7 linked regions of the Homo sapiens genome follow. The protein of the gene in region 2 purifies or fractionates together with the protein of the main gene of each other region. This does not show direct contact. Each region holds a gene or a part of one and is shown on either strand. Other genes may lie near its edges. The genes, in order: ARHGAP1, RDX, KIF11, CTTN, LSR, CMAS and UCKL1.

Region 1 (3,500 bases), about 64 Mb from region 2:
CCCCCACCAACCCTTAAGACTCAATGCAGGCATAATCGCCGCCTGGAATCCTGTGTCCTCGCCCTCTCTCCCCAGACAGGTTAGCTGCCCCTTTTCATGGCTCCCAGCATAAACCGTCACCCATCACTGTCCTGACCCTTCACTCTCCTGTAGAATTGTTTATGTACCTGTCTCCCTGACAGGCTTGTGAGCAGCTCAAAGACAGAGGCTGTGTCTCATTGTCTTTGTTTGTTCTTTTTCTTTGTTTACTCCTGGCAAGCTGTGATTTTTTTTTTTTTAAGAGACAGGGTCTTGCTCTGTCACCCAGGCTGAAGTGCAGTGGCATAACTGTAGCTCACTGCAGCCTTGAACTCCTGGGCTCAAACAATCCTCCTGCTTTAGCCTCCCATGTCCTGAGTAGCTAGGACTACAGGCACATGCCATCCCACCTGCTTAATTAAAAACAATTTTTTGAGACAGAATCTTGTTATGTTGCCCAGGCTAGTCTTGAACTCCTGCCTCAGCTTTCCAGTAGCTGGGATTACAGTTGCGTACCATGGCACCTACAGTCTCCAGTACTGGTCCAGTGTCTGGCATGTGGCAGGTATTCAATACGTTTTGGTAGCCTGCACAAAATCGCAGGTCACCATTAAACTATGGGATGCCTGGTTCTAGTTATATTTCTGTGTTTGTTCTTCTTTTTTTTCTGAGATGGAGTCTCTATCATCCAGGCTGGAGTGCTGTGGAGTGATCTGGGCTCACTGCAACCACCACCTCCTAAGTTCAAGAGATTCTCCTGCCTCAGCCTCCCAAGTAGCAGGGACTACAGGCAGGTGCCAGCACACCAGGCTAATTTTTTTTTTTTTTTTTTTGAGATGGAGTTTTGCTCGTTACCCAGGCTGGAGTGCAATGGCGCGATCTCGGCTCACTGCAACCTTTGCGTCCCGGGTTCAAGTGATTCTCCTGCCCCAGCATCCTGAGTAGCTAGGACTACAGGCATGTCCCACCACACCCAGCTAATTTTTGTATTTTTAGTAGAGACGGGGTTTCACCATGTTTGTCAGGCTGGTCTCAAACTCCCGACCTCAGGTGATCTGCTCGCCTCAGCCTCCCAAAATGCTATGATTACAGGTGTGAGCCACCATGCCCAGCCTTAATTTTTGTATTTTAGTAGAGACAGGGTTTCACCATGTTAGCCAGGCTGGTCTCCAACTCCTGACCTCAGATGATCTGCACGCCTCAGCCTCCCAAAGTATTGGGATTATAGGCATGAGCCACAGCACCTGGCCTCTGTGTTTGTTCTTGATTATGCTTTGGTTATGGGTCAGACTGCTTCAGATAGTGAGTTTCCCAAAGCTCAGGACAGAACGTCTCCAGATTTGCAAGTAGAGAATCCTCTACCAGCTTGTCTGCAGAGGAGGTGCAGCTCCATCCCGGCAGGTCTGTTTTGAAGGACCAGGTGGTACCTGCTCTCTTTCGTACCCTAGCCTAGATCCTGAGGTGCTGAGATCCCGGAGGCCAGCTGGGGGTGGCTCTGGGGCTATGTGCCTGCTCTGATTCACTTCCCACTGGCTCTGACAGTGGAAGGAAAAGCAGACTGGCAGGGGCCAGGGACAAAGGGTTAGACTGGCAAGCCCAGTCTCACTAGTCTGGAGCTTCAGAAACCCCAGAGATGCCTACCACCAGCCTGGGAAGAGGGGGCCTCATCTGCCTACCTCCTTCTAAGCGAGGAAATAACCAGGATTTGGGGGAAATGCTCGAGGACAATGGGGGCTACCAAAAGGATCTTTCCTTCCAGCCCATGAGTCCCCGCACCTCACATCTGCACCAGCAGCAAGGCAGGCCTCATTGGCTGGCAGATTTGAGGATTCAGCCAGGGCAGAAAGTCTGTGAGGCCCCTGGGTCTAAAATATAAGAGGTAGCAACTGGTTAGGGAAGCTGTTGGGGGGAGGGCTGGAGGCCTGTGGTGTCTCCTCTCAGCTGGCCACAGCACTTTGTAAGTGGGAAGCTTTGGGTTCTGAACCAGGGCTCCACCAATGTGCTCAGCAGACACAGCACCTCCATGATGTTATATGACAAATATTACAAGCATGTGCACTTTTTTTTTTTGAGACAGTCTCGCTCTGTCGCTCAGGCTGAAGTGAAGTGGCGTGATCTCAGCTCACTGCAACCTCTACCTCCTGGGTTCAAACGATTCTCCTGCCTCAGCCTCCTGAGTAGCTGGGATTACAGGCATGCACCACCACACCCAGCTAATTTTTTTTTTTTTTTTGAGACGGCGTCTCGCTCTGTTGCCCAGGCTGGAGTGCAGTGGCACGATCTCCGCTCACTGCAAGCTCCGCCTCCCGGGTTCACGCTATTCTCCTGCCTCAGGCTCCTGAGTAGCTGGGACTACAGGCGCCCGCCACCACGCCCAGAAAATTTTTTGTATTTTTAGTAGAGACGGGGTTTCACTGTGTTAGCCAGGATGGTCTCGATCTCCTGACCTCATGATCCGCCCGCCTCGGCCTCCCAAAATGCTGGGATTATAGGGATGAGCCACCGCGCCTGGCCTTAACCCCAGCTAATTTTGTATTTTTAGTAGAGACGGGGTTTCTCCGTGTTCATCAGGCTGGTCTCGAACTCCTGACCTCGTGATCCACCAGCCTTGGCTTCCCAAAGTGCTGGGATTACTAGGTGTGAGCCACCGCACCTGGCTGCACTTTTTTTTTTTTTCAGTCAAAGAGATCCCCCCTATCCTGGGGATACCTTTCATAGTTGCAAAGTGGACTGTGACCAGTTTTAAGAACCACTTCACTAGACTGTAATCTTTTTTTTTTTTCTTTGAGCCAGGATCTTGCTCTATCACCCAGGCTGGAGTGCAGTGGTTCAATCATAGCTCACTGCAGCCTCCAACTCCTGGACTGAAAGGATCCTCCCACCTCAGCCTCCCAAGTAGCTAGGACTACAGGCACAGGCTACCACACCTGGCTAATTTATTGTTATTATTTTTGTAGAGACAGGGTTTCACTATGTTGCCCAGGCTGGTCCTAACTCCAGGGTGGCCCTGGAGTTAATCACCAACAGGTCTCCCCAGGCATTCTGGGCCCCCTCAAACCAGCCCCACCCACAACCGGACCAGCAGGCCTGGGACCTGGGAGGTAGGGCTGGGCTGATGGAGCCAGTCATGTGCTACAGCCAGCTCACACATTTGTTAAGCTGTTCAACTGTCAGGAATTTTGCAAGCCAGTTGACATCATGTTGGTAGCTAGAGAGCTGGGAGGCAGAAACTGCAAATGCTACAAATCATGGCCTTTTTCCCCCTCTCCAGAGAGCCATTTACCAGCACACCACTGGAAAGAACCCACTGGGACTGAGCCAAATCTGACCCTGGGGCATGACAACTATTCCCGGCAGGGAGAGCTGAGGCTATAACCCACCCTCCCTTCCTACAAGGGCTTCTCCCGGACATCTCCACGGTCTCACCAAATGAGTGCCTGGTGATGCCAATCCAGCCTCCTCTCAGCAATCAGGGAGGCACA
Region 2 (3,500 bases):
AGATTTAACAAAGAAAAAAAAACAGAGGAAGCAAGAAACATCCAGAACTCACAGCACAGAATACTGTGCTTAAAATGCTGCTGCAAGGAGTATTAATTAACTTATACACACTACTGTGACACTTAACAGGCCAGGTGTGGTGGCTCACGCCTGTAATCCCAGCACTTTGGGAGGCTGAGGCGGGAGGATCACTTGAACCCAGGACAGCCTGGGCAACATGGTGAGACCCCGTGTCTACAAAAAATAAAAAAGCCGGGAGTGGTGGCAAGCTCCTATAGTTCCAGCTACTTGGGAGACTGAGGTGGAGGGATCACTTCAGCCTGGGAGGTCAAGGTCACAGTGAGCTATAATCAAGCCACCGCACTCTGGCCTGGGCAACAGAGACAGTCTCAAAAAGAAAAAAAAAAAAGCACTTAACACACTTTATGAATACAATATGGCACATCTATCTGCCCATTAGAGTGAGAACTCCTGAGTATTTTACTCATCTTTCCATTCTCAAATGCAAAGAGTATGTGGCATATAATAACTGTCCAAATGTACGACTGACATCTTAAAGCAGTGGTCGGCAAACTTTTTCCGTAAAGGGCCAGGTAAGTAAACATTATAAGCTTTGTAAGCCACACAGTCTCTGTTGAAACCATTCTACTGTTGTAGCAGGAAAGCAGCCATAGATAATATGTAAACAAGTCAGCTACGATGTGTTCAAATAAAACTTTATAAAAACAGGCAGTAGGCTGGGTTTAGCCCATGGACCACAATTTGCCAAGTATTTTAACAAGAATCAACACTTTTCCTTTCATAATTTAACTGAAGTTGGTACCTACAAAGATATGAGCTCACTACATATGACTATCTGTAATGGATCAATTTTGGATATGACTTTGGGTGGGGGTAAAAAAAGGACCGAAGACATGTAATATAGATGAATAATGAAAATAACAGGGCTGGGTGCAGTTGCCTGCACTTTAGGAGGCTGAGGCAGGAGGATCACTTGAGGCCAGAAGTTTGAGACTAGCCTGGGCAACATAGTGAAACTGTATCTCTAAAAAAAATTAAAATCAGCCAAGCATGGTGGTGTGCACATGTAGTCTTAGCTACTCCAGAGGCTGAGGTGGGAGGACTGCCTGAGCCCCGGAGTTCAAAGCCCTGGAGTTCGTGGCATGGAGCTATGATCATGCCACTGTACTCCAGCAGCAGAGAGGTGACAGTGACAGAGAGAAGGAGGGAGACAGGGAAAAAGGGAGGGACGGAGGGAGGAAGGAAAAAGAAAAAAGAAGTATCTATTGGGAACAGAGTTGGAAGAAAGGGCAATTCCATTACCCTTGCCAGTTGACTGGTTAGGTATAGAATGTGCCCCAATCCTGGCCAATGAGGCTCGAAAGACATCTGCTTGGGGGTTTCTGGAAACAGTTCCTCTTATTCCTTTGGATACTGCCCTGTCTGGATGGGATGCAGCAGCCAAACTGGGACAAGGGGCTAACTGCAGGCTTGACCTCCCAGGCTCAAGTGATACCCCAACCTCAGCATTCTGAGTAGCTGGGACTACAGGTCCACACCACCGCTCCTGGCTCCTTTGCAGCAGCCAAATTGAGATGGGTAAGGGCTGTCTTAGTATGAAGTTAATAGGGAAAATCACAGGGAAGAGAGTTGGAAAGAGAAGGAGTCCTTGATGTCATTATTGAACCATTCTTGAGCCTCTGGACTTTTAGTATGCAAGACATTAAATTTTGGCCAGGCATGGTGGCTCACACCTGTAATCCTCCCAGCACTTCAGGAGGCCGAGGCAGAAAGTCCAAGGCAGGAAGTCTGAGGCAGGATGATCATTTGAGACCAGCCTGGGCAACATAGGGATACCCCGTATCTACAAAAAGGCTTTTTAAAAAATTAGTTGTTGGCCAGGCACAGTGGTTCACACCTGTAATCCCAGCACACTGGGAGGCCAAGGCGGGCAGATCACTTGAGGTCAGGAGTTTGAGACCAGCCTGGCCAACATGGTAACACCCTGTCTCTACTAAAAATACAAAAATTAGCCGGGCCTGGTGGCATGTGCCTTAAATCCCAGCTACTAGGGAAGCTGAGGCAGGAGAATCGCTTGAACCCTGGAGGCAGAGGCTGTAGTGAGCTGAGATCATGCCACTGCATTCCAGCCTGGGCAACAGAGCGAGACCCTGTCTTGGAAAAAAAAAAAAAAAATTAGCTAGGCATGGTGGCACACGCCTGTGTTGGCAGCTACTAGGGAGACTGATGTGGGAGGAACTTAAAGGATCACTTGAGCCCAGGAGGTCAAGGCTGCAGTGAGCTGTAATAGTGCCACTGCACTCCAGCTTGGGTGACAGAGGAAGACTCTGTTTTCAAAAAAAAATGAAGAAAAAAATGACATTAAATTTCCTCATTGTTTAAACCAGTTGGAGAATTTTCTGCTATTTGATGCCAATGCATCTTAAAGGATCTAAGGGCTCAAAACTGAAGAGCGCTCACTTCACAAATTTACCTGCAGTCAGTCCTAGTTGACTTAAACTTTTCACAAATAAATTAAAAAAAAAAAACATTTAAGGTCCTGAAAGCCATAGAGATTATCTACAACTCAGAAGAAAACAGTCCATTATCTCAATTACTAATAGCTTTATAAATTCTATAATCTTAGAGAAAATAAACAATGAAGTACCTGTTTCTTCAATACTGTATCTAAAATATCCTTTCAACAGGATGTTTTTTCTAAGGAGTTGGCAAACTTTTTTTGTAAAGAGCAAGATGTGGCTATTTCCCACACCAAATTATAAACCTCCTTTTTTAAAAGACACCATTTCTCATTGTCAACTATATGCCATATGCTAGAAAACAAAAAGTAAACTTCATCTTCAATCATTAATCAAGAAAATCTGTACACAAACAAATTTGCACATACACACACTTGAGAATTAGCGTAGGGAATTCTATTGTGTGCTTTTATTCAAATGATGAAAACATGAGAAATATGATTTACTCAATGTTTAACACAAGTTAATAAGCATCCTTTCAATGTCTGTTACAATATAACCCTATTTTAACAAGACTTTAAAATCACAAATAAGGGATATAAAGTATATGTTTATCCCTGCATACCTACTGGCATTTTCTATAAACAAGGAATTGCCGACAGCAGCTACCTATGGAAAACAGGACTGGGAAAGGGGCTGGGGTGTTCCAGGGAGTAAGGAGGACTTTGACCTTTTCCTTGACATTTTTCTGAGTTTTTAAACTTTGCCATAAAATATATCACTTTTATAGTTTTTTTTAAATGGCTTAAGCTATACATTCAATATAAAGATATACACCAGGAACTTAAAGTAGGAAAGGCAGGATTTCTCTAAAATAGGCTAGAAATTGAGGAACTCTCTGGGGCCAGATTGGACACCTCTATCATCAAAGCAGTACGCACACCCTGGCTGCAGCAATCAAGGAAGTTACCAGAACAGTCTTCAGCTGGATCAGTAATGCCATGAGACTTAAAATAATCT
Region 3 (3,500 bases), on a different chromosome or scaffold from region 2:
TGTGTGTGTAATTTTAGAGTTTTCTTTTCTTTTTTTTTTTTTGAGATGGAGTCTCGCTTTGTTGCCAGGCTGGAGTGCAGTGGCGCGATCTCGGCTCACTGCAACCTCTACCTCCCAGGTTCAAGCAATTCTCCTGCCTCAGCCTCCCGAGTAGCTGGGACTACAGGCACACGCTACGACGCCCAGCTAATTTTTGTATTTTTAGTAGAGACGGGGTTTCACCATGTTGGCCAGGATGGTCTCGATCTCTTGACCTCGTGATCCACCTGCCTCAGCCTCCCAAAGTTCTGGGATTACAGCCGTGAGCCACTGTGCCTGGCTTTTTTTTTTTTTTAATTAACTATTGAACTTCTGTTTATTATTATTATTATTATTTATTTATTTATTATTTTTTGAGATGAAATCTCGGTCTGTTGCCCAGGCGGGAGTGCAGTGGTGTGATCTCGGCTCACTGCAACCTCCGCCTCCCGGGTTCAAGCAATTCTGTGCCTCAGCCTCCGGAGTAGCTGGGATTATAGGCGCTCGCCACCATGCCCGGCCAATTTTTGTATTTTTAGTAGAGATAGGGTTTCATCATGTTGGTCAGGCTGGTCTTGAACTCCTGACCTCGTGATCCGCCCGCTTCGGCCTCCCAAAGTGTTGGGATTACAGGCGTGAGCCACTGCACTTGGCCTTATTTTTATTATTTTTTTCATCAACTTTTAAGTTCTGGGGTACATGTGCATGATGTGCAGGTTTATCACATAGGTAAACCTGTGCCATCACAGTTTGCTGCACAGATCAACCCATCACCTAGCTATTAAGCCCAGCATCCACTAGCTATTCTTCTTGATGCTCTAGCTCCTTTTGCCCCACTGAATTTTAGGGTTTTCTTTCTTTTCTATTTTTTTTTCTTTTGAGACAGACTCTCGCTCTGTCACCAGGCTGGAGTGCAGTGGCACAATCTTGGCTCATTGCAACCTCTGCCTCCTGGGTTCAAGCGATTCTCCTGCCTCAGCCTCCCGAGTAGCTGGGACTACAGGCATGCGCCCATGCCTAGCTAAGTTTTTGTAGTTTTAGTAGAGACAGGGTTTCACTATGTTGGCAAGGCTGGTCTCAAACTCCTGACCTCAAGTCCCCTTGGGGTTCCTGAAGTACTGGGATTATAGGTGTGAGCCACCACGCCCGGCCAGATTTTCTATATAAAAGATCATATAATCTGCAGACAGATAATTTTACTTTTTCCTTTTCTTTCTTTTTTTCTTTTTTTGAGATGGAGTCTCGCTCTGTCGCCCAGGCTGGAGCGCGGTGGCGCCATCTCTGCTTACTGTTACCTCTGCCTCCTGGGTTCAAGCAGTTCTCTGCCTCAGCCTCCCAAGTAGCTGGGATTACATGCACATGCCACCACGCCCAGCTAATTTTTGTATTTTTAGTAGAGATGGGAGTTCATCATCTTGGCTAGGCTGGTCTTGAACTCCTGACCTCGTGATCCATCCGCCTTGGCCTCCCAAAGTGCTGGGATTACAGGCATGAGCCACCGCTCTTGGCCCTCAACCTTTTCCTTTTCAATTTGGATGCCTTTTATTTTTATTTTTCTTCCTTTTTTTTTTGAGATGGAGTCTCGCTCTGTTGCCCAGGCTGGAATGCAGTGGTGCAATCTCTGCTCACTGCAACCTACGCCTCCTGGGTTCAAACGATTCTCCTGCCTCAGCCTTCCGAGTAGCTTGTACTACAGGCATGTGCCACCATAAACAGCTAATTTTTTTTTTTTCTCGTATTTTTAGTAGAGACGGGGTTTCGCCGTTTTAGCCAGGCTGGTCTCGATCTCCTGACCTCGCGATCCGCCTGCCTCAGCCTTCCAAAGTGCTGGGATTACAGGCGTGAGCCACCATGCCCGGCCCTTGTTTTTCTTTCTTGCCTAATTACTCTAGCTAGAACTTACAGTATTATGTCGAATGGAAGTGGCAAAAGTGGGCATTGGGCATCCTTGTCTTGCTCCTGTTCTTTTATTTGTTAGTTTGTTTGAGATCCTCCTGCCTCAGTTTCCTGAGTAGCTGGGACTATAGACACACTACTACACCCAGCTAATTAAAAAAATAATTTTTTTTTTTTTTTTAGAGATGGGGTCTCGCTATGTTTCCCATGCTGATCCTGAACTCCTGGCTTCGGGTGATCCTCTACTCTTACCCTCCCATAGTGCTGTGATTACAGGCATGAACCACTGTGCTGGCCCTGTTCTTGTTTTTAGAGGAACATTCTTCAGTCTTTGACCATCAATTATGTTTGCTGTGGGTTTTTCATATGTTGCTTTTATTTTGTTGAGGTAGTTTCACTCTATTCCTAGTTTGTTGAGCATTTTTATGACTAATGGGTTTTGAATTTTGTCACATGCTTTTCCTGCATCGATTGACATGATTCTGTGGTTTCCTTCATTCTGTTAATGTGGTATATTACATTGATCAATTTTTACATGTTGGACCATCCCTGTATTCCAGGAATAAATCCCACTTGGTCATGGTGTATAATCCTTGTGCTGCTCAGTTCAATGTGTTGGTATTTTGTTGAGGATTTTTTTTTATCAGTGTTCATAAGGGATAGTGATCTGTAGTTTTCTTGTAGTTGCCTTTGTCTGGCTTTGGTATCAGGGTAATGCTTGCCTCACAAAATGAGTTGGGAAGTGTTCTCTCCTTTGCCAGATTTTTTCTGGGAAAAGATTGAGAAGAACTGGTATTAGATCTTCTTGAAATGTTTTATAGAATTCACCTATGAAACTATCAGATCTAGGGCTTTTCTTTGTCAGGAGATTTTTGGTTAGTGAGTCCATCTCTTTACTGGTTATAGCTCCATTCAGAATTTCCATTTCTTTGTGATTTAGTCTTTGTAAGTATTGTGTTTCTAGGAATTTGTTCAGCTGGGTTATCCGATTTGTTGGCATACAATTGTTGAAAATACTCTTTCAACAATAAGAGAGAAGACACAAATAACTAGTTCTTTTGTTTCCAGTTCCTTAAGTTGTAAAGTTAGGGTGTTGATATGAGATCTTTCTTGCTTTTTAATGTAAGCATTCATAGCTATAAATTTCCCCCTTAGCACTGCTTTTGCTGTGTCCCGTAAGTTTTGGTATGTTGTATTTTCATTTTCATTAATCTCTAAAATTTTCTAATTTTCCTTGTGATGTCTTTGAACCCTGGTTACTTAAACACACACACACACACACGTGTGTGTGTGTGTGTGTGTGTGTGTGTGTGGTTTTTTGTTTGTTTTGAGACTGAGTTTCGCTCTTGTTGCCCAGGCTGGGGTGCAATGGCGCGATCTCGGCTCACTGCAACCTCTGCCTCCCGGTTCAAGCGATTCTCCTGTCTCAGCCTCCAGAGTAGCTGGGATTACAGGCGCCTGCCACCACGCCTGGCTAATTTCACACACACATTTAAAAAATACATCTACCTGCTTTTACTTCAGAATCTTTGCAATTTCTGTTCTCTCTGCCTGAAAATTTTTTCCACCAAAATATCTACAGGGCC
Region 4 (3,500 bases), about 40 Mb from region 2:
CCTCCCAAAGTGCTGGGATTACAGGTGTGAGCCACTGTGTCCAGCCTCTGCTGTACTTTAAAAAAAAAAACTTTTTTTCTTAATTCTTTTTTTTTTTTTGAGATGGAGTTTCACTCTTGTTGCTCAGGCTGGAGTGCAGTGGCGCAATCTCGGCTCACTGCAACCTTCACCTCCTGGGTTCCAGTGATTCTTCTGCCTCAGCCTCCCGAGTAGCTGGGATTACAGGTGTGGGCCACCACGCCCAGCTAATTTTGTATTTTTAGTAGAGATGGGGTTTCATAATGTTGGTCAGGCTGGACTTAAACCCCTGACCTCAGGTGATCCACCCACCTCGACCTCCCAAAGTGCTGTGATTACAGGCGTGAGCCCCCTCCCCCAGCCTGTTTTTTGAATTTTTAAAATATTAGCTAATGATTTAACTTAGAGATGGGGTCTTGCTATGTTGCTCAGGCTGGACTCCGCCTCCTGGGCTCAAGTGATCCTCCCTTCTCAGCCTCCTGAGTAGCTGGGCTGCAGGCACACACCCCCACCTCTGGTTACCACTGTTTGTGTTTCTGTTATTACACATAAATAGCACCTTTAAATACTGTCTGTATTATTCAGTGGTCCTACAGTGGACCTGAAAGATTTTTGTTTTTTTAATCAAAGGATAAAATACTTGCATGTTCACTGATTTCGTTGCTCCTTTTAAAGTAGTCCTTTTTTGTTTGTTTTTAGATTACTCCAAAGGTTTCGGCGGCAAATACGGTATCGACAAGGACAAAGTGGATAAGAGCGCCGTTGGCTTTGAGTATCAAGGCAAAACGGAGAAGCACGAGTCCCAGAAAGGTGTCTTCCGTTTTATCTTACCCTCCAGCCAGCAGCTAGTAATGTGACAGGTGGTAGCCACACCGGAAAAGGAAAAACAAAGCGTTATTGATAGCCCTTAACGTAGATGTCTCTTTTTCATGAAATGCCCAACTTGAAAACGGCACATCCAGAAACACAGCTGCTAAATAGGAACTCGCAGCTTGAGTGTTATGGCGCTCCAGCCCCAGCGGCGTTGCTTATCGTGGTGGCCACACCCCGCACGTCTGTGTTGCCCGTGTGAGCCTGTGCTGTCTCATGGTGCGGGTGGAAGCCGCATGCGTGGGAGCTTCCATGGGGTCCTGTCTGGCTTAGTCACGATGCTGAGGTCATAGACTAGGTTATTTCCTGCCACTCTCCAAGGAGGGCCTCTTCATGGATGTTATCTAAAGTATTACCAAAGATCCGGAAGGGAAGAGTAGATTGAGTGAATCATATGCGTTTAACTGTATTGAAAACATACTTTCCACCTGTGACCTGCACTACCTGTTAATGATGGGTTCTGGCCTTTCATTGTGCATGTAGACTATGTGAAAGGGTTTGGAGGAAAATTTGGTGTGCAGACAGACAGACAAGACAAATGTGCCCTTGGCTGGGATCACCAGGAGAAATTGCAGCTGCATGAATCCCAAAAAGGTACATTCACTCTGCCTGTATGCGAGATGGTTTTAGAAGTTTGTTTTTGTTCCTTGCGGGGTCAGTTGGTATGTGTTGTGTCTGCGTGTGCCTGCTGCACATTGTTTTGTCTTCACTGTTTGAAGTTGTCCTGTGTGCCCCCCCAATCCCCCAGTTCCCTCCAGCTAGTGTAGTCACAAACCCTCCCTGCTGACACGGGGTGGTACCCCAGAGAGCTGGGTTTACCTGGAAGTGGGTTGCACGGGCCAAGCCTGCAGCAGGGGGCTGGGTTTACCCAGGAGTGGGGACATGGGTCAAGCCTGCAGCGGGGGGCTGGGTTTACCCGGGAGTGGGGGCATGTGTCAGGCCTGCAGCGGGGGGCTGGGTTTACCCGGGAGTGGGGACATGGGCCAAGCCTGCAGTGCTCCTCATCCAGGCTTCTTGTCTATAAAGTGGGCCACGGTTTTTGGCAGGAGATACTTACTTTTGAACCGAAAGTGTTTTCTTGTTGGAATGGGTGCCCCTTCCCTGGAAAAAGGAGCCTGAGGGGGCTGAAAGCCTCTCAGTGTGACCCAGCCCTGAGAGAAGCAGGAGCGGGGCTAATGGGGCTGCAGCGCCCTCCGAATCTGCAGGGTCTCTCCTCCCGTGTACACAGATACGCACACTCGTCTGCAGTGTGCGTAGGACGCTAAGAATGAACTGCACAGCCGGGAGTGCCTTTACTGAATTATTTGAAGTACAGTTCTTAGGCTGTTCCAGATCTTCGCTGAATGTTCAGATTTTAAGTTCATTCTTTAACGTTGACCTCTGGAGCCACCTTCTGGCGCTGAGCCTGGGAGTAGGATCTCAAAGGCCCTAAGCTCAGGAGAGCCCTTGCTTTCTGGAAACTGTGTTTGATTTTTGCGCATGCTCATGCAATTCTAACCCAACTGTGTTTCCTCTTTTGGTTGTTTTCCCCACCGTTGCTTGTGGATTTTCAGATTATAAGACTGGTTTTGGAGGCAAATTCGGTGTTCAGTCGGAGAGGCAGGACTCCGCTGCTGTGGGGTTTGATTACAAGGAGAAGCTGGCCAAGCACGAGTCCCAGCAAGGCACAGTTGCCACCAGCCTCCTACCCTCCCCCCGACCCTCCTGTGCGGCCACTTCTAGCACAGACTTCAGGGCTCACCGTCAGCACCTGCAACACAGTCCTCCTGTGTCACCACTTGTCAGCTGTCAGGCTGTTCGGCACTTTAAACCCATTTCTAGTAGAGCGACACTGATTTTGAGTGGTTCACTTTCTTCCCTGTGAACTTGTGATCTGTGTATGGCAGGATGCGCCAGTTAGTGTGTGGGTGCCATCTTTCTAACCCGGTGACCCATCCAGTCTCTGGACTGGGGCATCTCCGGTCTCCAGCAGCATTCTGCCCGAGGCTGTTCTGCTGTTATTGGTGACTGCCGTGAGCCACTGAGTCAGGCCTTCCAGATGAGGAGAGAGGTGTTGGTTCAACCAAACCACTGGCCATTTGACCAGGGGCTTCGTAGCAGCAAGGGCCAGGAGACAGGCGTGTTCTGTGTGGTTTCTGTGTTTCATTTGTGGTGGTGTTTTTGGCCGGGGTTGGGAGGTTTTTTGTTTGTTCTGTTTGATGACACCATATGTGTGTAACATCTCCACACAGAGCCACACAGTATGTACGTGAAGCCAGCTCTGCATCCTTCCTTAGAGCAGTTATGTTGTTACCTTCAAAATTTGGACTTGGTTATTAGAACCTGAACACATAATTGGAAAAACAGTAATTCCCTAACCTTGCAGGGAAGACTCTAGGCTTTCCACCTGCAGCGTTAGAAACACACAGCAGTGTTCAGGTGTGGGCAGGTAGACACACCTGGGGTGGTCCCGCAGACTGCATGGAGATGGCAGTGGCTCTCCGTGGCATCACTGCTGCATGACAGTGTGACTTTCATGTGGATCTGTGTTGCTGCAACGGAAGTCTTTGGCTGGTAGAATTTCCACATGGATTTTTTTTTTCTCTTAAAAAGCAAGAGAACAAACTGCGATT
Region 5 (3,500 bases), on a different chromosome or scaffold from region 2:
CCGTGGTCTCAGCCCAGGACCTCCAGGGGAACAATGAGGCCTACGCAGAGCTCATCGTCCTTGGTGAGTGGGCCTGGGAAGGGGGAGGCATGGCCCTTCCTTTTGTCCGCTTCTGTTCTGTCTGCCCTCCCCTGTGTCCGCCCTCTGCCCTCCAGCTTACCCTCTGGGCTCTGTCGCCTGCTCTGCTCTCCCCCAGGCTCTGCCAGTCACTTAGGCTCCCCTGTGCCCTGCACCCCAGGCAGGGACCACTGGCCCACAGTGCCTCCAATCACCCAAGCCAAACTAAGAGAAGAGTGGAGACAATTGGAGACTCTGCCTTTTCAAAGTCTCATTTTTAAAAAAAATCCAGACTTGGGGTCCGGGTGCGGTAGTTCATGCCTGTAATCCCAGCACTTTGGGAGGCCGAGGCGGGTGGATCACTTGAGGCCAGGAGTTCGAGACTAGCCTGGCCAACGTGGCAAAATCCCGTCTCTATAAAAAATATAAAAGCCAGGCGTGGTGGTGCACATGCCTGTAATCCCAGTTACTCAGAAGGCTGAGGCATGAGGATTGCTTGAACCTGGGAGGCAGAGGATGCAGTAAGCCAAGATCAAGCCACTGCACTCCAGCCTGGGCGACAGAGTGAGACTCTGTCCAAAAAAAAAAAAAATCCAGACGTGGTCAGAGTCCATGGGCAGTGAATGAGGACAGTTGATGGTGTGCAAAATCGACCCACCTCTTGCTACATCCCCAAGGCCTCATCTCACCCGAGTCCCTCGCCAAAGCACAGCGGTTTTGCCGTGTGCCCTGCTGGGATGGCGCTGCATGGCACACACACTGTGTAAGTTTGAGTGCAGCTGAAACGAAGCCGATTCCAGACACCCAGGGGCAGGGCGGGGTGTCCGTGTGGCTGGGAGGCCTCCTTGTGTTAGGGGGATGTTGCCATCGGCCAGGTGCCCTGCTGTAAGCCAACACATGGAGTCTTGTATGACATGTGCTCTGCATGAGTGATGCCGCTGGGCTGTACACTGCCATCTTCACATGTGTGAATGAGCACGTGACTGGGGGGTACTTGGGCTGCAAGACAGAGTTCATGTGTGGGGGATGGAACACGTGCACCAGTGACCCAGGAACCTCTGCCTGTTCTTCGGTAAAATGCACCATTTGCATCAGCAGTTCCCAAAATTAGTCTCCAGGTCTATTTACACTCTAAAACATTATCGAGGGTCTCCAAGAGCTTTTGTTTGTTTCTGTGGGTTTTATGTCTATCTGTTGCTTAACATATTAGGAATTAAAATGGGGAGATTTTCCTTTTTTTTTTTTTTTTTTGAGATGGAGTCTCGTTCTGTCGCCCAGGCTGGAGTGCAGTGGCTCGATCTCGGCTCACTGCAAGCTTCACCTCCTGGGTTCACGCCATTCTCCTGCCTCAGCCTCCCAGGTAGCTGGGACTACAGGCACCCGCCACCACACCCGGCTAATTTTTTTTGTATTTTTAGTAGAGACTGGGTTTCACCATGTTAGCCAGGATGGTCTCGATCTCCTGACCTCGTGATCCACCCACCTGGGCCTCCCAAAGTGCTGGGATTACAGGCATGAGCCACTGCCCGGCCTTAAAATGGGGAGATTTTTCAAGCCCAAGATACACAAGGAAGACTGGGCAACATGGCAAGACCCTGACTCTACAAAAAATTTTAAAATTAACCAGGCATGGTGGCATGCACCTGTGAGCCCAGCTTCTTGGGAGGCTGAGGCAGGAGTATCGCTTGCACCCAGGAGGTCAAGGCTGCAGTGAGCCGTGACTATGCTACTGCACTCTAGCATGAGTGACAGAGACCCTGGCTCAAGAAACACAAACACACACACACACACACACACGCATATAGTCCATTAGGCATCAGGGCGATGATGGCATCAGGGAGCCTGGGAAACTCTACTGGACATTCATGGGAGAACAAGTGAAAAAGGCAAATAACATCTTAGTGTTATTCTAAAATTTCTTCTTTTGGCCTTGTGGACAGGACCACGCTTTGAGAGCTGTGACTGACATGCCTCTGTCCTGTTGCGAGGGCCTATAGTGCCAAGTGCATGAGCTCTGGGGAGGGCTTCGTGGGTGCAGAGCTGGGCCTGTGGAGGCCCCTCAGACACAACACTGGTGGGGCTCAGAGCTCCAGGGGCACTCGAGGGAAGACAAGAACCGGCTCTGAGATGCGTGAATGTGACAGTGCATGAGTAGAGATGGAGACCTTGTGGGTCCCAGAACCAGGACTGCATATGACTTTCATATGTGGGTATTTTTGCCTTCATGGGTCCCTTCCTGTTTTAAAAAAAATGTGTGATTATGTTGTCACAAAGAGTTTATTCCTGTATATTGTGTTAATTTGTGTTCAGATTTGTAAAGTAAAATTAAACCATTTCAGCCAGGTGTGGTGACACATGCCTGTAGCCCTAGCTACTTACCCCAGAGGCTGAGGTGGGAGGATCGCCTGAGCCCACGAGGTTGAAGCTGCAGTGAGCCATGATCACACCCCTGCACTCCAGACTGGGCGACAGAGCTGAGATCCTATTTCGTGGGCCCTAGGTCCCTGTGCCTGCTGGAACAGGACATCCCTATCACCGTGGTTGGAGCCCTTTGGGGTGCTAAGACCTATGAATGAGGGAAACTTAGGGTGCCCAAGCTGAGGTAGAGCCCTCAGAACCCCCTGGGATTTGTATTGGAGCCCTCGTGGCATAACACAGGTGGATTATGCAATGGGAGTTTCTTACCTATAAGCACCCACATGTGGGCGGGTGGAGGGTAGGAGCCATGCACTAGGGCTTCAGCCCCCAGCCCCTTCCCGCTTCAGGGCACACCTTGCACTTGGCCAGCCTGGAGCTGGGCTTTCGGGGGTGGCACAGCCTGGGCTGGCTCTGGCCAGCATAATCTGTTTCTCTTTTGTCCCTCCAGGGAGGACCTCAGGGGTGGCTGAGCTCTTACCTGGTTTTCAGGCGGGGCCCATAGAAGGTACGGGGGGTGGATCCTGAGTTGGGCTTCTCGGGAGCTCCCATACATCACCTACTGCTTCTGACTCTAGTTAGTATCCCCTTCCCCACTAAACCCTGCTCACTGTGGACCCCTCACTAACCTGGCCTGACTGTGGCTCTGAGGCATCTAGTGGTCTGGCGCTGGGCCTAGGCTAGGCTGGGCTGAGGAGAGCCTGGGGTGCAGGCCAGGGCTCTGTGACTGGCACCTGCGGTGCTCTTGAGGGTGTGGCGTCTGGGCAGCTGGCTCTCTCTTTGGTCTGGGGGCTGCAGTCTGTCTCCCTCTGTGCAGGCTGCCTCGTTTTCTGCCTTGTGTTTTTTGCACCTGGGGGAGGGCCGTAACTGGGGAATGGCCGGGATGGTAGAATGGGGAGTGTGCTGTGCCCAGCCTCTGGCACAAAAAATCCAGCCAGGGCTGCAGGTTCCTTGGTGAGCTTTGCAAATCGTCCCCGACCTCAGTGCTGGCTCCGCACCATGTACCCCTGCTGTGCCGTTAGCCCTGT
Region 6 (3,500 bases), on a different chromosome or scaffold from region 2:
ACTATTTCAGATTTCAAGATGGAGGAAAATGGGGGCTCCTGCGTTCGCCCTGCATAGAGTGACATAAGTAGATATCACGGGATTCTTGACCCCTAGCCAGTGGCTCATCTTGTTTGCTAGGCTTTCTTTGATTATTTTTTCTTACTGACTTTATCCCTTGATTTAAATCCCTCTATAAATATTAAAGGGAATAAACGAAATAAATAAATGAAATCCAGGGATGTTAGAAGATTTTCTTTAGTTTTTCACTTTCTTTCCACTCATGATAATTGAGCATAGACAAACATGCAGTTCAGCCGAGCGTGGTGGCTTACACCTGTAATCCTAGCATTTTGGGAGGCTGAGGTGGGAGGGTCACTTGAGGTCAGGAGTTTGAGACCATCCTGGCCAACATGGCAAAACCCCATCTTTACTAAAAATTGGTCGGGCGTGGTGACACATGCCTGTAATCTAATCCCAGCTACTCAGGAGCCTAAGGCATGAGAATCGCTTGAACCTGGGAGGTGGAGGTTGCAGTGAGCAGATAATGGGCCACTGTACTCCAGCCTGGGTGACAGAGCAAGACTCTGTCAAAAAAACAAACAAAACATGCAGTTCATCTTTCCCTCAGTAGATATCGAAAGAGTGGGATAAAAGGAAAAATATATATGTGTGTGTGTATATGTATACATATACACACACACATATACACATTATATATACACATTATATATACACGTTATATATAATTTTGTATGTATATAAAATAATGTGTATATATGTTTGTGTGTGTATATATATATATACACACCAAATATATATATATATATACACACACATACACCAAAGACTATAAGTCATTAAGATATCTTTGCATAAATCACTATTAAAACATGGTGGGGGCCGGGCACGGTGGCTCACGCCTGTAATCCTAGCACTTTGGGAGGCCGAGACGGGCGGATCACGAGGTCAGGAGATCGAGACCATCTTGGCTAACACGGTGAAACCCCGTTTCTACTAAAAATACAAAAAATTAGCCGGGCGTGTTGGCGGGCGCCTGTAGTCCCAGCTACTTGGGAGGCTGAGGCAGGAGAATGGCATGAACCTGGGAGGCGGAGCTTGCAGTGAGCCGAGATCGCGCCACTGCACTCCAACCTGGGAGACACAGCGAGACTCCGTCTCAAAACAAAACAAAACAAAACAAAAAAACATGGCAGGGTTTTGTTGTTGTTTTTTGTCTTTTTTTTTGAGACAGGGTCTCGCTGTGTCTCTCAGGCTGGAGTGCAGTGGCGCGATCTCGGCTCACTGCAACCTCTGCCTCCCAGGTTCAAGCGATCCTCCTGTCTCAGCCTCCCTAGTAGCTGGGATTACAGGTGTGCATCACCATGCCCAGCTAATTTTTGTATGTTTAGTAGAGTCCGGGTTTCACCGTGTTGGCCAGGCTGGTCTCCATCTCGTGACCTCAGGTGATCCACCCGCCTCGGCTTCCCAAAGTGTTGGGATTACAGGTGTGAGACTCCAGGCCTGACCAAACATTGTGGCTAGAGTAGTATTTACATCTTCTGCATTTAGCAGTGGGAATTTGTGACTGTCCAGGAAACAAAACTTCAATAGAAACTGGTACCCCTCTCCAAAACAGCATTTTGCCTACTCATCATTTTGTAAAGGCTAAATAGGCAACTGTGTAACCTGCGGTTAATAGAGTATTAAGTTAAATTCTTTTGAGCTAATGAAGTCATGTTCTTCATGTTTGTTGTTATCAATGGCTATAACCCAGCTGATTCTACATCTATATACCCATTGTTTGTTGTTTAAAAAAGAAAGAGTTGTTTCATCTGATTTTTTTTGAGCCCAGACTTGGGCATTTATTATCTTCTAAGCTTGAAACTGTTTCACCTTTAGGGTTTGGCTAAGCCAAGTCCATTTTTTTTTTTTTAGCAAGCATATTAAAATATTTTATACAATATTTTGGATTTGGATGGAGAATAAGCAAGATCTTTAATTTTCTTTAGATTTGACTTCTAGTGCCTTTTTAAAAACGTTTATTTTAGGTTCAGGGGTACATCAGGCTTGTTACAGAGGTAAGTTGCATGTTGCAGGGGTTCGGTGTACAGATTATTTCGTCATTCAGGTAGTAAGCATAGTACCTGATAGGTAGTTTTTTGATCCTCACCCTCCTCCCACCCTCTACCCTCAAGTAGGCCCCAGTGTCTGTTGTTCCTTTCTTTATATAAAGCATATCTAGGACTGCATTTTTATTCATTAATATATTTATATACAAAATACTTTATAATTTCTTACATTTTATACTCCTTTGGATCTGTAACATTATTATCATTGTGCAAAAAATATTCTCACATTATATAAGCTGTATTTTATGGTTACAGAGCTCCATTTTATTGTTAATGATTTCTTTTGATTTGGCTGTTAATTTCTTTTGATATCTGAACAGTGTATGGGTTTCGACAGACCATGATGAAATTGAGAATGTGGCCAAACAATTTGGTGCACAAGTTCATCGAAGAAGTTCTGAAGTTTCAAAAGACAGCTCTACCTCACTAGATGCCATCATAGAATTTCTTAATTATCATAATGGTATGAATTTGATTAATAGTTTATTCAAACCTTTATGTACTTTTCTACTTCCTTTATTATCTTATAAGACTTGTTTTAACATTTGAATTCCAAACCTTAATATTACTTGCTTGCAAGGAACTTTTTTTTTAAATATCCTTTTCATTTCTCTTGTCTTTTTAAGAGGTTGACATTGTAGGAAATATTCAAGCTACTTCTCCATGTTTACATCCTACTGATCTTCAAAAAGTTGCAGAAATGATTCGAGAAGAAGGATATGATTCTGTTTTCTCTGTTGTGAGACGCCATCAGTTTCGATGGAGTGAAATTCAGAAAGGAGGTAATCTCTTTTCAGTCTTTATTTTAGCTGATTTTATTGAGAATCAATTTTTTTGTATATAAATATCCTTTAGGCATGAGGAGAGTAAAAGGGGAGCTGTAAAAGAGAGTATTTGACTCATTACTTTAGTAGGTAATGACATTTACAATCAGCTGTAAATCTGTTATCGAGCCAACACAGCTAGACCAAATTAATTCTTTGCTTTACTCTTTACAAAGGGACATTCTAATCCTCTTATTTCTGTTTGCCTTTTGAGGCAGATATGCTGTTTTTCTAGATCAAATACTTTTATGTTTGTTCTAGACATGTTTGATGAACTCCATACAAGTCATATAGAGATAGAAAGCATCCACCAAAGTGTTCTGAAGGATTTCAAGAATGACATTTTGAAGTTCTTCCCCAAATTCCTAACTCCATATATAAGAAGGGTTCCCTAGGGTTTACTAGGCATTTTGCCTGCCATGTCCAGTGTGCTATAAATCTTATCCAGAGAATTATTATAAACACTGTGTTTTTCCATTCAGTAATGTACATTTTAGTTGTTTCGTAGGGATTCCATTTTCTGTTGAAATTTTCCATTTTTTTATCCATTTTAAAAAAAGGTCAT
Region 7 (3,500 bases), on a different chromosome or scaffold from region 2:
GCCTGCCTCCGGCTCCCCTCCAGTGCCTGTGGAGCAGGAGAAGGAAGCCGGGCAACCGCAGGCAGCGGCAGCGGGATGGGCACCTCTGGGACCTATCTGTGCCGGCAGCCTGCCTGTTCCTCACAGAGGGTCTCCACTCCCGCCGGCAGGCTTGGGAGGCGGCAGTGCCTCTGGGAAGACCACTGTGGCCAGAATGATCATCGAGGCCCTGGATGTGCCCTGGGTGGTCTTGCTGTCCATGGACTCCTTCTACAAGGTGGGCCCCCGCCCAGCTCCCCCGAGGACCCCTTTGTCCTCTCCCTGACCCTGGACCCCCTGCAAAAGTAGGTCCCTGGTCTCAGCCCCAGCGTGGCTGCTCCTGGGAGGCCTAGAGCCCCTGTCCGCTGGCATTGGGTGAGGGCCCTACTGTGCCCACAGCTGCTCCACAGCCTCCCCCACCAGGTGCTGACTGAGCAGCAGCAGGAACAGGCCGCACACAACAACTTCAACTTCGACCACCCAGATGCCTTTGACTTCGACCTCATCATTTCCACCCTCAAGAAGCTGAAGCAGGGGAAGAGTGTCAAGGTGCCCATTTATGACTTCACCACGCACAGCCGGAAGAAGGACTGGGTAGGCCAGGGCCCTGCAGAGGGGGCCTCGGGGGGCTGCAGGCACATGAGCCAGGCTCCGCAACTCCTGGGTTTCTTCACAGAAAACACTGTATGGTGCAAACGTCATCATCTTTGAGGGCATCATGGCCTTTGCTGACAAGACACTGTTGGAGGTAAGCACCCGCCGGGAATACCCACCCCGCTGGTATCTCAGCCCTGGCCGCCCTGTCCATGAGGTGTGCGTCCTCCTGCCCTGTCCCCAAGGCCTCCACACTGTATAGGCCTAGGCCAGCCACTCCCTACCCCAACCCCAACCCCAGGCATGCCACAGCTGGGTCCATCTGCCGGCCCCAAAAGGCAGAGCGTGGCTGCCTGAGGCAGTGGTTCCTCTCCACCGGCTGAGGCCTGTGCGCATACCTGGAGTGTCCTTGGCGTTCTCGTCCCTTGCCGTGGTCCTGACGGACAGGTGAGGACCCAGGGCTGGTGTGTTTGAGAGATTTTGCTGTAGCTCAAGGGGGCCTTCAGGACACAGCTGAGTGTGACTCAGGTTGGCCTGATCCCAGGGCCCAGGTCCTGCCCCTTGTACAGGCCCAGAGGACTCCATCATCCGGCACATAGCAGCCCCCAGCCTCCACAAGGCCTCTTCACGGGCCAACTACTGTGTGCTGAGCATGGGGACAGACCCTAAACTCGCCACGTCCCCCATTCCCCAGTGTGTTGGTGCAAGTTACCCCAAGCAAAGTAAGGAGATCACATGTGCCCAGCCCCATTCCTGCCTGATTCCTTAGCCAGCCACCATGCCATGCCTCTTCACCTAAGCCCCTGACGGGCAGCACCGCATCCCCAGACACCCCCACCTCCCCACTCCTTCCCACCTGCCAGGGTGCCCTGGGGAAGTGGCTCGGGCCAGGCCCACGGACCAGGTGCAGACACCCCCACCTCCCCACTCCTCCCCACCTGCCAGGGTGCCCTGGGGAAGTGGCTCTGGCCAGGCCCACGGACCAGGCGGCCTCAGTGCAGGGGCTGGTCCCAGTGTCTCCATGCCCACTGCTGGCATCTGGCCACTCACTGGCCCGCTGTCTCCACCAGCTCCTGGACATGAAGATCTTTGTGGACACAGACTCCGACATCCGCCTGGTACGGCGGCTGCGCCGGGACATCAGTGAGCGCGGCCGGGACATCGAGGGTGTCATCAAGCAGTACAACAAGTTTGTCAAGCCCTCCTTCGACCAGTACATCCAGCCCACCATGCGCCTGGCAGACATCGTGGTCCCCAGAGGTGAGCCTGCTGGGCTGCCTGTTGGGTGGGTGTCGGGCAGGCCAACGGCCCAGCCCCCGGTCACCCGCCCCCCCATCCCGCCCCAGGGAGCGGCAACACGGTGGCCATCGACCTGATTGTGCAGCACGTGCACAGCCAGCTGGAGGAGGTGAGCGGGGTCCCACGTCCCCACGGCCTAGCCCCCAGCCCCTCTACCCACTTCTCCGCTGCCACCACCCCCAGTGGCCTGGTCACCTCATCCCCCTGCGTTCACTGTCCCCTGCCAGGTGCCAGCCCTGAGTGTCCTGAGCCTGCTTGGCCAGTCAGATTGTCCAGCCCAGACCCCATCCCGTTGTGCTGTGCAGGGCCTGGGTTCCCTGAGGAAGCTGGGGTGGGGGTACAGGTGCTCAGGACCCAGCCGAGGGTGCAGCCCGCTCAGCACACCCAGCCTGAGCTTTTGGGAAGACAGGCATGACCTGCTGGCCCAGGATTGTGGGGTTTCACTGCTGAGTCCCACGCCAGGCCAGGCTCCTCTCTTTCTCAGGGGGTCACCCCAGGAGCGACACCCCCACCAGAGGTCCCCTGCTCCCTGAGGCATTCTATGGCTGGGCCTTGGAGCCTGAGTGGCTCTGAACACACTCCCTACCAGGATGTTGAAGGCCTGAGGCCTGCAGAACAGAGCCCAGGGTCCTGGCTCTGATTGCCCCAACGCAGAACTGCAGGTCTGGCCCAGGTGGTCCCCAGGTTACAGGCATTAGAAGCTTGCCACCCCCCATGGCTGGCTGTGTCCCCGCGGGCCTGCAGCATGTCCATTCCTGGGTGGGGGTGGCCTGGCCGCCTGCCCTGGTCACTGACGCGCCACCGTTCCCTTGTGTCTTCCTGTGTTGCTGCCACAGCGTGAACTCAGCGTCAGGTAAGACTTGCACAGCTGTCTGCACAGATGGAGGCACTTCCAACACCTCCAAGGAGCTCTGGGGTCTGGGCTGTGATCCAGCCAGGCAGCTGGCTCTTCCCCAGTCACAGAAGGGGTGGTGTGGAGTGGTCCCAGCCCTGCTTCTGCCTCCCCTTGCTGGCAGATGAGGACACTGAGGCACAGAGACGTGAAGTAGCTTGCCCAGCGTCACGGAGTCCTGACCCTGTCCTGGCCAGACTTTGCTGGAGGCTCCCCTGACTCCTGAGTCTGTCTATGGGATTTGACCCCAGAGAGCACAGCTGTCCTCCTGAGCCAGCACTGCCAGGCCTCTGGGGCAGTGACTACAGACATGTCCCAGCAGCCAGGGAGCCTGCTGTACCTCCTGTGCCCAGCCTCACGGACCAGTCAGCTTTCCCTGGTTGCAGGTGGAGGGCCTCGCGCCTGTCCTCCCACCCACCCGGGTCCTGCTTGCCCCAGCTCTGTCCTCGCAGCCCGCACAGCTCTGCCAGCAGGAACTGGGCAACTGCAGCAAGAAGCTTGGGCTGGGCCGGGGCCGCATCCCACTGTCCCTCCCCAAGGGCAGGCATGCAGGGGGGTCAGCCACAAGGGACCTGCCCTTCTCCCTGCCTTCTGTGGGTTGGGAGGCTCCTGACTGAGCCACCTGGAGGGAGAGCCCTCACATTCAGAGCCCTCCAAAGAGTTTGCCAAATGTTGGAAATGCCTCCAGGGCCCGTCC

What was found.
Region 1: the proteins of RDX (region 2) and ARHGAP1 fractionate together in Homo sapiens (co-fractionation; one large-scale study listed by BioGRID). This does not show direct contact.
Region 3: the proteins of RDX (region 2) and KIF11 purify together in Homo sapiens (affinity purification with mass spectrometry; one large-scale study listed by BioGRID and IntAct). This does not show direct contact.
Region 4: the proteins of RDX (region 2) and CTTN fractionate together in Homo sapiens (co-fractionation; 2 studies listed by BioGRID). This does not show direct contact.
Region 5: the proteins of RDX (region 2) and LSR fractionate together in Homo sapiens (co-fractionation; one large-scale study listed by BioGRID). This does not show direct contact.
Region 6: the proteins of RDX (region 2) and CMAS fractionate together in Homo sapiens (co-fractionation; one large-scale study listed by BioGRID). This does not show direct contact.
Region 7: the proteins of RDX (region 2) and UCKL1 purify together in Homo sapiens (affinity purification with mass spectrometry; one large-scale study listed by BioGRID and IntAct). This does not show direct contact.

Annotation. Positions count from the first base shown.
Region 1 is NC_000011.10:46,690,620-46,694,119, forward strand, and holds part of ARHGAP1 (rho GTPase-activating protein 1), read right to left. Parts: intron 1-3,500. UniProt on the Homo sapiens protein: GTPase activator for the Rho, Rac and Cdc42 proteins, converting them to the putatively inactive GDP-bound state. Cdc42 seems to be the preferred substrate.
Region 2 is NC_000011.10:110,290,115-110,293,614, forward strand, and holds part of RDX (radixin), read right to left. Parts: intron 1-3,500. UniProt on the Homo sapiens protein: Probably plays a crucial role in the binding of the barbed end of actin filaments to the plasma membrane.
Region 3 is NC_000010.11:92,599,630-92,603,129, forward strand, and holds part of KIF11 (kinesin-like protein KIF11), read left to right. Parts: intron 1-3,500. UniProt on the Homo sapiens protein: Motor protein required for establishing a bipolar spindle and thus contributing to chromosome congression during mitosis. Required in non-mitotic cells for transport of secretory proteins from the Golgi complex to the cell surface.
Region 4 is NC_000011.10:70,419,029-70,422,528, forward strand, and holds part of CTTN (src substrate cortactin), read left to right. Parts: intron 1-717; coding exon 718-828; intron 829-1,371; coding exon 1,372-1,482; intron 1,483-2,441; coding exon 2,442-2,552; intron 2,553-3,480; coding exon of another isoform or gene 3,481-3,500.
Region 5 is NC_000019.10:35,259,002-35,262,501, forward strand, and holds part of LSR (lipolysis-stimulated lipoprotein receptor isoform 2 precursor), read left to right. Parts: coding exon 1-63; intron 64-69; exon of another isoform or gene 70-820; intron 821-1,997; exon of another isoform or gene 1,998-2,401; intron 2,402-2,923; coding exon 2,924-2,980; intron 2,981-3,500. UniProt on the Homo sapiens protein: Probable role in the clearance of triglyceride-rich lipoprotein from blood. Binds chylomicrons, LDL and VLDL in presence of free fatty acids and allows their subsequent uptake in the cells.
Region 6 is NC_000012.12:22,052,718-22,056,217, forward strand, and holds part of CMAS (N-acylneuraminate cytidylyltransferase), read left to right. Parts: intron 1-2,431; coding exon 2,432-2,574; intron 2,575-2,737; coding exon 2,738-2,893; intron 2,894-3,500. UniProt on the Homo sapiens protein: Catalyzes the activation of N-acetylneuraminic acid (NeuNAc) to cytidine 5'-monophosphate N-acetylneuraminic acid (CMP-NeuNAc), a substrate required for the addition of sialic acid.
Region 7 is NC_000020.11:63,942,917-63,946,416, reverse strand, and holds part of UCKL1 (uridine-cytidine kinase-like 1), read left to right. Parts: intron 1-149; coding exon 150-256; intron 257-417; coding exon of another isoform or gene 418-441; coding exon 442-612; intron 613-694; coding exon 695-766; intron 767-890; exon of another isoform or gene 891-1,334; intron 1,335-1,682; coding exon 1,683-1,872; intron 1,873-1,958; coding exon 1,959-2,020; intron 2,021-2,395; coding exon of another isoform or gene 2,396-2,551; exon of another isoform or gene 2,552-2,747; coding exon 2,748-2,764; exon of another isoform or gene 2,765-2,860; intron 2,861-3,500.